Regions from separate parts of the Homo sapiens genome. Here region 1 is linked to region 2. The links come from fine-mapping of genetic effects on gene expression. Tissue or cell type: nasal epithelium. Region 2 holds a variant in brackets; the other region holds the start of a gene. All regions are shown on one strand. Distances are between the middles of the regions. Region 1 holds the start of PRELID2 (PRELI domain containing 2). Region 2 holds the start of GRXCR2 (glutaredoxin and cysteine rich domain containing 2).

The links. PIP is the estimated chance that this variant, and not a neighbour inherited with it, causes the effect.
Region 1: it holds the start of PRELID2, and the variant in region 2 is the best candidate, but not a certain one, in a credible set for the expression of PRELID2 in nasal epithelium (TOPMed, PIP 0.59).

What each region holds. Positions count from the first base shown.
Region 1 is chr5:145,833,722-145,837,973 of GRCh38, reverse strand. PRELID2 (PRELI domain containing 2) reads left to right here and starts at 2,632. Exons shown (of 7, transcript NM_205846.3): 1 at 2,632-2,797. The coding sequence starts at 2,723. RefSeq lists a silencer at 2,321-2,440.
Region 2 is chr5:145,870,353-145,874,875 of GRCh38, reverse strand. It overlaps GRXCR2 (glutaredoxin and cysteine rich domain containing 2), which reads left to right and starts at 1,862. Exons shown (of 3, transcript NM_001080516.2): 1 at 1,862-2,243. The coding sequence starts at 1,908. The variant G/A (reference allele first, on the strand shown) is at 2,568.

The DNA.
Region 1 (4,252 bases), 37 kb after region 2:
TTGGTCATTGGTGACCTTGACAACAGTCGTTTCGGTGAAGTGGTGGGGGCAAATACTGATTGGAATGGGCTCAAGAGATTACAGGCAGCTCTTTTGAGGAGCATCAGTGGACCAGAGACTCGGAATACAGCTGGAGGAAGATAGGGGGTTAAGAGTTGTTTTTTTTGTATTGTTTCTGTTTTTGTTTTTAGATGGAAGAAATTACAGTGTACTTGTTGTGCTGGCTGGAATGGCCCAGTAGAGACAAAAGCTGATGATACAGAAAGGAAGGGGGATATTGCTAGAGAGATGGCCTTGAACAAGAAAGAGGACAGGAACTTTTAGTGATGTACTAGAGCTGGCCATTCAACACAGCTATTATTAAAGTATATAAATTTACAATCACATATAAAAATTAATAAATATTTATTTATTTGAGATGGGTCTCACTCTGTGGCCCAGGCTGGAGTGCATGGCACGATCATAGTTCACTACAGCCTTGAACTTCCGGATTTAATAGAGCCTCTGGCCTTAGCCTCTCAAGTAGCTAGGACTACAGGTGTGCACTGCCACACCTGGCTAATTTTTTATTTTATTTTTTGTAGAGATGGGGTTTCACTATGTTGCCTACACTGGCCTCAAACTCTTGGCCTCAAGTGATCCTTCTGCCTTGGCCTCCCAAAGTGCTGAGGTTACAGGCATGAACCATAGGAGCCTGGCCAAAGAGTAATAAACATTGAAAACTCATCCCTTCCTGCTACATTTTCCATTATTTATGTTTTTGGTTCTTTATGGCTGTCGTATGTGGGTGGTGGAAATACTATGTGATGGTGTGCTTCTGTGCTTCCCTCCCCAACTCCCACTCCTCACTCAACTCCATGTTGCTAAATCCCCAACTTGTGTTTAGTGACATCGAGTTGGCATCTTTAAACATGGTAGGAGTATTTACACCACAGGAATCAGCAACCTTTGGAAATCAGGGCCTTGCTTGATTTATACTTTAAAGGACAGCTATTTGTTAAACATTTTTCAGTTCACCTCAGGATTCAGTGGACAAATGGAGACACTGGTGCTAAAACAAAGTGCTGACAGTTCACCCACAGGAACAAGAGTGAAGGCAAGGCATTTGGTCTGGTGGGTAGAGAGGTGGCAGAGCGATGTGACCTATTGACTAAGTGAAAATGGAAGTAAGGTAATGACTGGAGTATAAGGCTGGGAACAAAGGTGTCAGAGGTGTGGAGGAATGCGGGAGAGTAAGTGGATTAGAGAAATTCAGTACTCTCTTTTTTTTTTTTTTTTGAGATGGAGTCTTGCTCTTGTCGCCTAGGCTGGAGTGCAATGGGCGAGCTCTGCTCACTGCAACCTCCGTCTCCCGGGTTCAAGCGATTCTCCTGCCTCAGCCTCCGGAGTAGCTGGGACTACAGGCGCCCGCCATCACGCCTGGCTAATTTTTGTATTTTTAGTAGGGACAGGGTTTCACCATGTTGGCCAGGCTGGTCTGGAACTCCGGACCTCAGGCGATCCGCCCACCTTGGCCTCCCAAAGTGCTGGGATTACAGGCGTGAGTCACCGCACCCAGCCAGAAATACAGTACTTTCATAGTGTATTTGTCTGGCACCATTAAAAGGCGCCATAGGGTTAGTGGTTATGAACTTAAAAGATGCACAGTGGGTGTGTATTTTCCTTCAGCCCCTTCTGGTGGCTTGGGTAGAGACAGTCAGAGGAGACCTAGATTTACACAAGGCTAGGGTTTTGCCAGACCAGTGTGACTGCGTATGGCAGGGGCGAGCGAGATGGCAAAATCGTAAAAGTCATCACCTCAGAGACCCTCCATAATCACCCTCACTAAAATCATGTCCGCGCCCGTGTCACTTTAACCGATTATTGTTTTTATTTTCCCAGCTTGTTGATTGGGTGTGAAATCAGCCGGCTCATCAGCAGAGCTGGTGTTTCCTCCCTGCGGAATCCGCAGTGCCCACTACAGCGCTGGGGCATAGGAGGCCTCAGAACCGTGCTGAATACACGGATTAACGTGCTGGTTCTCCTAACATCTGTTGGTTGCAGTAAATAATAATACTCGCAACTCTTTTGTATCCTCTAGTTCCTTGCTCCGTGGTGTTTAACCTTAGCGAGCAAAGGAACTTACCTGCAGGTTTTGGTGCACTAAAACGCGGTTCTTATTCCCGAGGCAATCTTTACCTTACACGAGGCCCAAACCCAAGCCTCAGAGGCAGCTGCCTGGTGGCATGAGTAATGCTGGCCTTTGTCACACCAGGCCTTCCTTATTAATACTTTTTTCCCGTGCTGCCAACCACGGCTTATTCTGTGACTCCAGGCGGTGATACCATAAACGCATAAGCCCAAGGTCCAGGTTTCCTGGGGCGGGGCGTGATGGCTCCCAGGCAGAGAAGCTTTTCTCGGCAGGCGCGGCCGCGGGAGGGCACCAGGGCCGCTCTGGCGCCGCCAGCGTGGAGACCGCGGGGCCCCGGGTGCTCTGGGAGCGCTCCAGCGCCTCCCGCGCTCTGTAACCCCAGGCCCCGGACTCTGGCAGTAGGGGCGTGGGCGTGGCCGACTGCGCGTTTCTCCGAGTGGCCAATAAAGTTTCGAAAGTTTGAAAAGCGGAGGAAAAAGGCCACGCCCATGTGGCTGTCCGAGTGTGGGCGCCTCCGGGCCTCTGCGGAGCCCTGGGCAGCTCTGAGCTCGCGGAGGCGTGGCCGGTGCGCGGGGCCCGCGGCGCGCGGGGATGGGGGTCTCGGTGGATGTGCACCAGGTGTACAAGTACCCCTTCGAGCAGGTGGTCGCCAGCTTTCTCCGAAAGGTACCGCCCCGCTTCCACCTTCCGTATCCCGCGCTGCCTCCGCTGCTTGCCCCTCTCTCCTCTCCTTCATCCACGCGGAAGCTGGCACCGCCAGTGTCTCTTTCCAGCTGCGGGCTTTGCTTCAGGGATGTGTGGGTCGAGAGGGATTTCCTCGAAGACTCCCTTTACAGGGAGCGGGAAAAGGGGCCGTGCTTGGCATCACGTTCACACCTGCCCCAGCTGAAAGAAGAGGCTTTCCTTTTAGGAAGAGCCTCCGGGAATCCCAGCTCGTGAGCTCCGTGGAGTTGCAGATGACCGACGTGTGGAGCTTTCCGGTTCATCACTGACCCCTTAAAAGCGAGGGGAGGCCATTGGGCAGTCATCCTGGTTTACTCAGCATGATGGTTCTGCTGCCCCATCCGCTGCTCCTTATTAAACAGCTGTGGGACATCGTGCAGGTTGCTTACTCTCTTTGTGCCTTAGTTTGCTAATCTGTAAAATGGGGAAAATAATAGTACCGACTCATAGAGTTGTTGTGAGGATCCAAATGAGGTAACTTGTGTAAAGTGCTTAGCACAGTTGTGACCTAAATGAAGAAACTGAGGCAAAATCAATATAAAAAGAGAGTTCATTCGAGCCAAGTTTGAGGGCTGCATCCTGGGAGTGAAGGTGCCCTGAGTATACATTCTGATGAGCAGAAGTCGAAAGTGGGTTTTTAAAGGAGAATAAGAAGCACTTCCTAAGTTGTTTACCAAGAATTTATATTAAAATAACATAAACTATTGATTGTCTGTACATTGTTCTTTGTATCACAAATTCCAGGAACTTGAAGATAATGGGTAAGGCAGCTGGTCAGGAACAAAATGCCTTTAACCAGTTGCTCCCAGGAATGGGTTGGGTGAGGAGGGGACCACTAAAGTCCTATACTCTTGTCTCTCTGGGCTTGATTGATTTTGCATATTTCACTGTAACTCACACAATCTGCTCTGAGCTATTTTTCTTTTTCTCACTGCTACTGATGTTTAGTTAGGGCTCTAAAATGTTATTGTTGTTTGTATTACTACAACCGATTTCAATACAGATAATGAACTCTTCCTCAATACTGAGGAGCCCTGAATCCCAAAGACTGTTTCTAGGATTGTGGGTCCTGATAATAGGAAAATGGGAAATGTCTTTGAAAAATCGAAAGCGCCCAGGCCTGGGAGGCAGGACTCCTGGACTCTGATCTGGTTCTATGCGTGGTTAGTTCTCTGGGTGACCTTGGCTGAGGGTCTTTTCTCTAGGCCTTAGTTTCCACATCTATAAGATGAAGGGGTTGTACCAGATGATCTTTGAAGGTCCCCTTCGGTTTTCATAAGCAAAATTTGCAACAGTTGCAATTTGCCTTGGTTAGCAGCCACGGGACATTGAACTCCATATGCAACCCGGAAGCCAAACTAAGGGAGATGCTGGGAAGATGAAGGTCATTTGTTAAAC
Region 2 (4,523 bases):
TTGAGAAATGGGTAAGCTTGTTGGTGTAACTGGAACACCAATCCCAGGCAGCCCCTGGAAGAGTGACAGAGGGCAAGGCTGGAAAGGAAGGAAGGTGAGGCTGGTTTTTGAGGGGCTTTGCTTGTCACATGGAACAGTTAAGACTTAAGCCCTGATGCACTAGAAAAGATTTTTCAGCAAGAGACTGACACCTGTGGATTTGTTGTTTTGGACTATTGCTCTCACATCAATATGGAGAATGGAATTGGGGGTGAGTAGGGAAGTCCTTGGGAGACAGCTGCAACTTTAAAAATCAAAGTGATGAGGGTTTGCCCTAGGGCCAGGGTGATAGGGGTAGATGAAAGAAGGCAGTGGTGAAAGAATCCATGTGAATGGGCTGGGTGCGGTGGCTCATGCCTGTAGTCCCAGCACTTTGGGAGGTCAAGGCAGGCGGATCACGAGGTCAAGAGATTGAGACCATCCTGGCCAACATGGTGAAACTCCATCTCTACTAAAAATACAAAAATTAGCTGGGCATGGTGGCGTGTGCCTGTAGTCCCAGCTACTCGGGAGGCTGAGGCATGAGAATTGCTCGAACTCAGGAGGTGGAGGTTGCAGTGAGCCGAGATCGTACCACTGCACTCCAGCCTGGCAACAGAGTGAGACTCCGTCTCAAAAAAAAAAAAATAAAATAAAATAATAAAAAAAAAGAATCCAAGCGAATGGCTGTAGGGGAATAGGAGGGGTCAATTTGGGTAACTCAGTAAATGGTGATGCTGGTAGCAAAGACAGGGAGAAAGGCTTTACTCCACTTTCAGCTCCTCACATCCAACCTACCATTTTCTACCCAGCCCAAGGGCCCTTTTCTTTACAAACCTTCTTCCATCCTTGTCTCCTTAGAGACCACTTCCTTCCCAGAGTGGCTATTCTGGGATTCAGCTGTGGGCAGTTTGCTCTCTAAGCATGAGGTTATTATTTCACCTGTGTGAGGTCTGTATGGGATTGTAGGACTGTTCTCAGGCCCAGGTCACATGCTTCTGTGCTATTCACTCCAGCCACTAGTTCAGTGTCAGGCATTTACGAAGTCCAACAGGCAATGGGGACTTGTGCTGTGATTGCAAATGAAATCTTAAATGTAAAATACATACCAAGTGGAGGTGCTCTGGTTAGCGTAGGGGGAGAAGGCCCAGAATCCAGGACCCTCGGCCTTCTCCTGTTCTTAGCAGCAGCCTCCAAGAACCTCCACTGTATCTAGGACGTCATTCCCTCTTCTAGAACCAGAACTGGAAAACTTCTGGTTGTGTGGGCTGATCTTGGGTTTTGGAGTCAGATAGATCTGGGTTCAAATCCCTGCTCTGTCACTTACTTAGGTGTAATAGAGCAGACAAATGATGAAGATAAATGACAAGTGGCTCTAAGCCTCACTTTCCCCTGTGTAAAACAAAGGTAAGATTTTCTTTGTAGGGTTATCGTGAGGATGAAATAAAATAATGCATGTAACAATCTCTGGTACTTATGAAATGCTCACTAGATTTTAATTGTCATTGCTAACAATAAGAAGACACTTGTTAACTAATTGAGTGTCTGATCCTTATTGAATTGGCACATGTTCAGTCTAAATAAACTTCTTCATCCTCAGGTTAAGAAAGGTTAGGGTTGGGGTGAAGTCATGGTGAGCTTGGGATTATGAGAAGAATCAATCTTGTCTTATATTCCATCCACTCCATCAAACCAGAATCACCTGCCTTTTCATGAGGGTCTATCAATATTTAATGTATGGGTGTCAGTTGCTGTAAACTGACCATACCCCAGCAACAACTTGAATTAATTATATGCAGGAGGAGAGAAAATAAAATGCCTTTTTCTCAGAGGCCCAAGTTTCACCGGCTGCACGGAAGGCTGGAGACCACAGGGTCAACTTTCTGCTGATGGAGGACCCTGAGAAAAAGCTGAATCAGAAGAGTGATGGCAAACCCCGGAAAGTACGATTTAAAATCTCCTCCTCCTACAGCGGTCGAGTATTGAAGCAGGTCTTTGAGGATGGGCAGGAATTAGAGTCACCAAAGGAGGAATACCCTCACAGTTTTCTGCAAGAGTCTCTTGAAACAATGGATGGTGTTTATGGGTCTGGGGAAGTCCCCAGGCCCCAGATGTGCTCCCCTAAGCTGACTGCTCAGAGGATCAGTGTGTTTAGAGAGGGTAATGCCTACACCTTGGCAGGCGGCCAGCCTCGGTTCAACGATTACAAGGCGAATGACCATAAGGTTGGTATTGTGCATGGCATATAGGCTTTAAGGGTAGGGCTTCCTAAAACGTGTTTAGAGAAACTCCTAAATGGTTCAGATTTGTGTCTTGCTCCCCCTCCGGTACCAACCAGAACTGTTGGTGCACCAAATGGGAAGTTGTTATTAGACGAATATTTCTGGGGTAAAAATAACATGCTTGTTGACTACTAATTGGAAAGTGCAATGAGCATATATAGTATTCAAATTCCATCCAAGGTAATACATTGTAATTGGATCTTTGACTGAGTTTTCCTGGAATGTAAATTAAATAGAGGTGCAGTGGTTTTCAGGTTGTCAGACTGC[G/A]GTTTTAGACAATTATGCAGTCATTTTGTTTCCTGAAAGAGCTGAGTATTTGAAAGTGCTCATTTTACTCCAGCCAATTACTCAGCTTGCAGTTTATCCATGTCTTGTTTTTTACCCCTATTGCCTTCCTCATACTGCCTGCTTTGTCTATTTATTTTTCCTTTCCATTGCTCCTTAGCATAAGCTCTGGGTAGTTGGAGTCCTGGGAAGGGATGGTGAAACGCAAATCAGCCAGAGGATATGTTATGTGAGGAAGAAGTTTGAGCTAATGGTTCGATTGAAGAATGTGTTTAATCTATGAATTTCAATTACTTCCCAGTACCATGGATAATCAAAAGTCCATACATGATTTTCTTTTAAGGTAGAACCTGGAAAACATACACTGGTATCCAAAAATTCATAGGAGATGTATATATGCTGTCAGTGGGACCATGAATGACTTCTTAAAAAAGATAAAATACAATTATATAATGTATCCACGTTATTAATGAATAGCACACCAGGATGTGTTCTCATCTTTAAAGTGTGAAAGCCAGATAATTACTCTTGAATTATTTTTATTGTTAGTTTCCTAAGGGAATAGATAACACATCTATTGCAGACAAATGTATTACTGGCTTTACTGGCATTGGTAAAAGTATAATTATGGGCATGTTCACAATTACCGAAGATAACACTAGGCTTGTTTTTGATATTAAAAGGGGCTGAAATGAATGACCTCTTATCTTAATGGGGTGACGTATGCAGTACAAAGTGTCATCATGTACTATCTCTGTCTATATCTATGGCATTGGGTCTTTACTATAACCTTGGGGAGAAAGGCCAAAGTATGGTCATTCCCATTTTGCAGAAGAGAAAAATTGAGTGCCAAGTTGTTAAGGGATCCATCTGATACTACAGGGTCATTGGGTACAGAGTCAGAATAAGAATCCAGATCTTCTGATGCTACAAATGTTTTGCTTTAGGGCATGTTCCTTTTTTTAGAGAACCATATTATTACATAATAATAATAGCTACCATTTGTTGAGTGCTTATTAGGTCCTAGGCACTTGGCTAGTCTTGTACTTATACTATTTCTTTTTAACTATGTCTTATTTGTAGATTTAGAATTTACAAAGTCACAGTTCATGCAAACCTTATGCAAGGCCACAGTAGATAAATTTTGGGTTGCTTGATCTTCATAAGTCATGTGCTAAATTTAGCATTTATGAAAATGTATAATTTTTTTTTTCTTTTTTAGAGACAGGGTCTCATCTGTCAACCAGGCTGGAGTGCAGTGGTATGATCATAACTCACAGCAATCTCAAACTCCTGGGCTCAAGGGATCCTCCTGCCTCAGCCTCTCTGGTAGCTAGGACTATAGAATTTATAAATCTAGGTAAATGAGTCTTCATGGCAGCATGGCTCAGTTGGTTAAAACACAGTACTCTATGTGTTTTAGAGGCCATGTTGAAGGTCTGATTCCTGCTTGGCCTCATTATCTCTGTTTTCTTTGTTTCCTGATCAAGTGCCCCATCCCAATCATAGCCAGATTCTGAGCATGAGAGTGACCAGGATGGATTCATGTAGCTGCACACCCTGGAATCATTTGTCAATGTGGTATTTATGAAAAAGAAGAAAATGAGAGCTAATGTCATGACTTTTCAATAACGAATCCAAATGTAAAACACTTCCTAGTAAATATTGGCTATGAGACCACATTGGGTAGCAATTAAGTGCAATAATTCAAAGCAAGGGCTCTGAACTCAAACAGATATATGTACAACATTGTTCATAGCAGCATTATTCTCAATTGCCTAAAGGTGGAAAGAACCCAAATGTCCATAGACTGATGAATGGATAAACAAGATGCGGTATGTACATACAACACAATATTATTCAGTCTTGAAAAGGAAGGCCATTTTGACACATGCACAATGTGGTTGACCCTTGAAGACGTTATACTAAATGAAATAA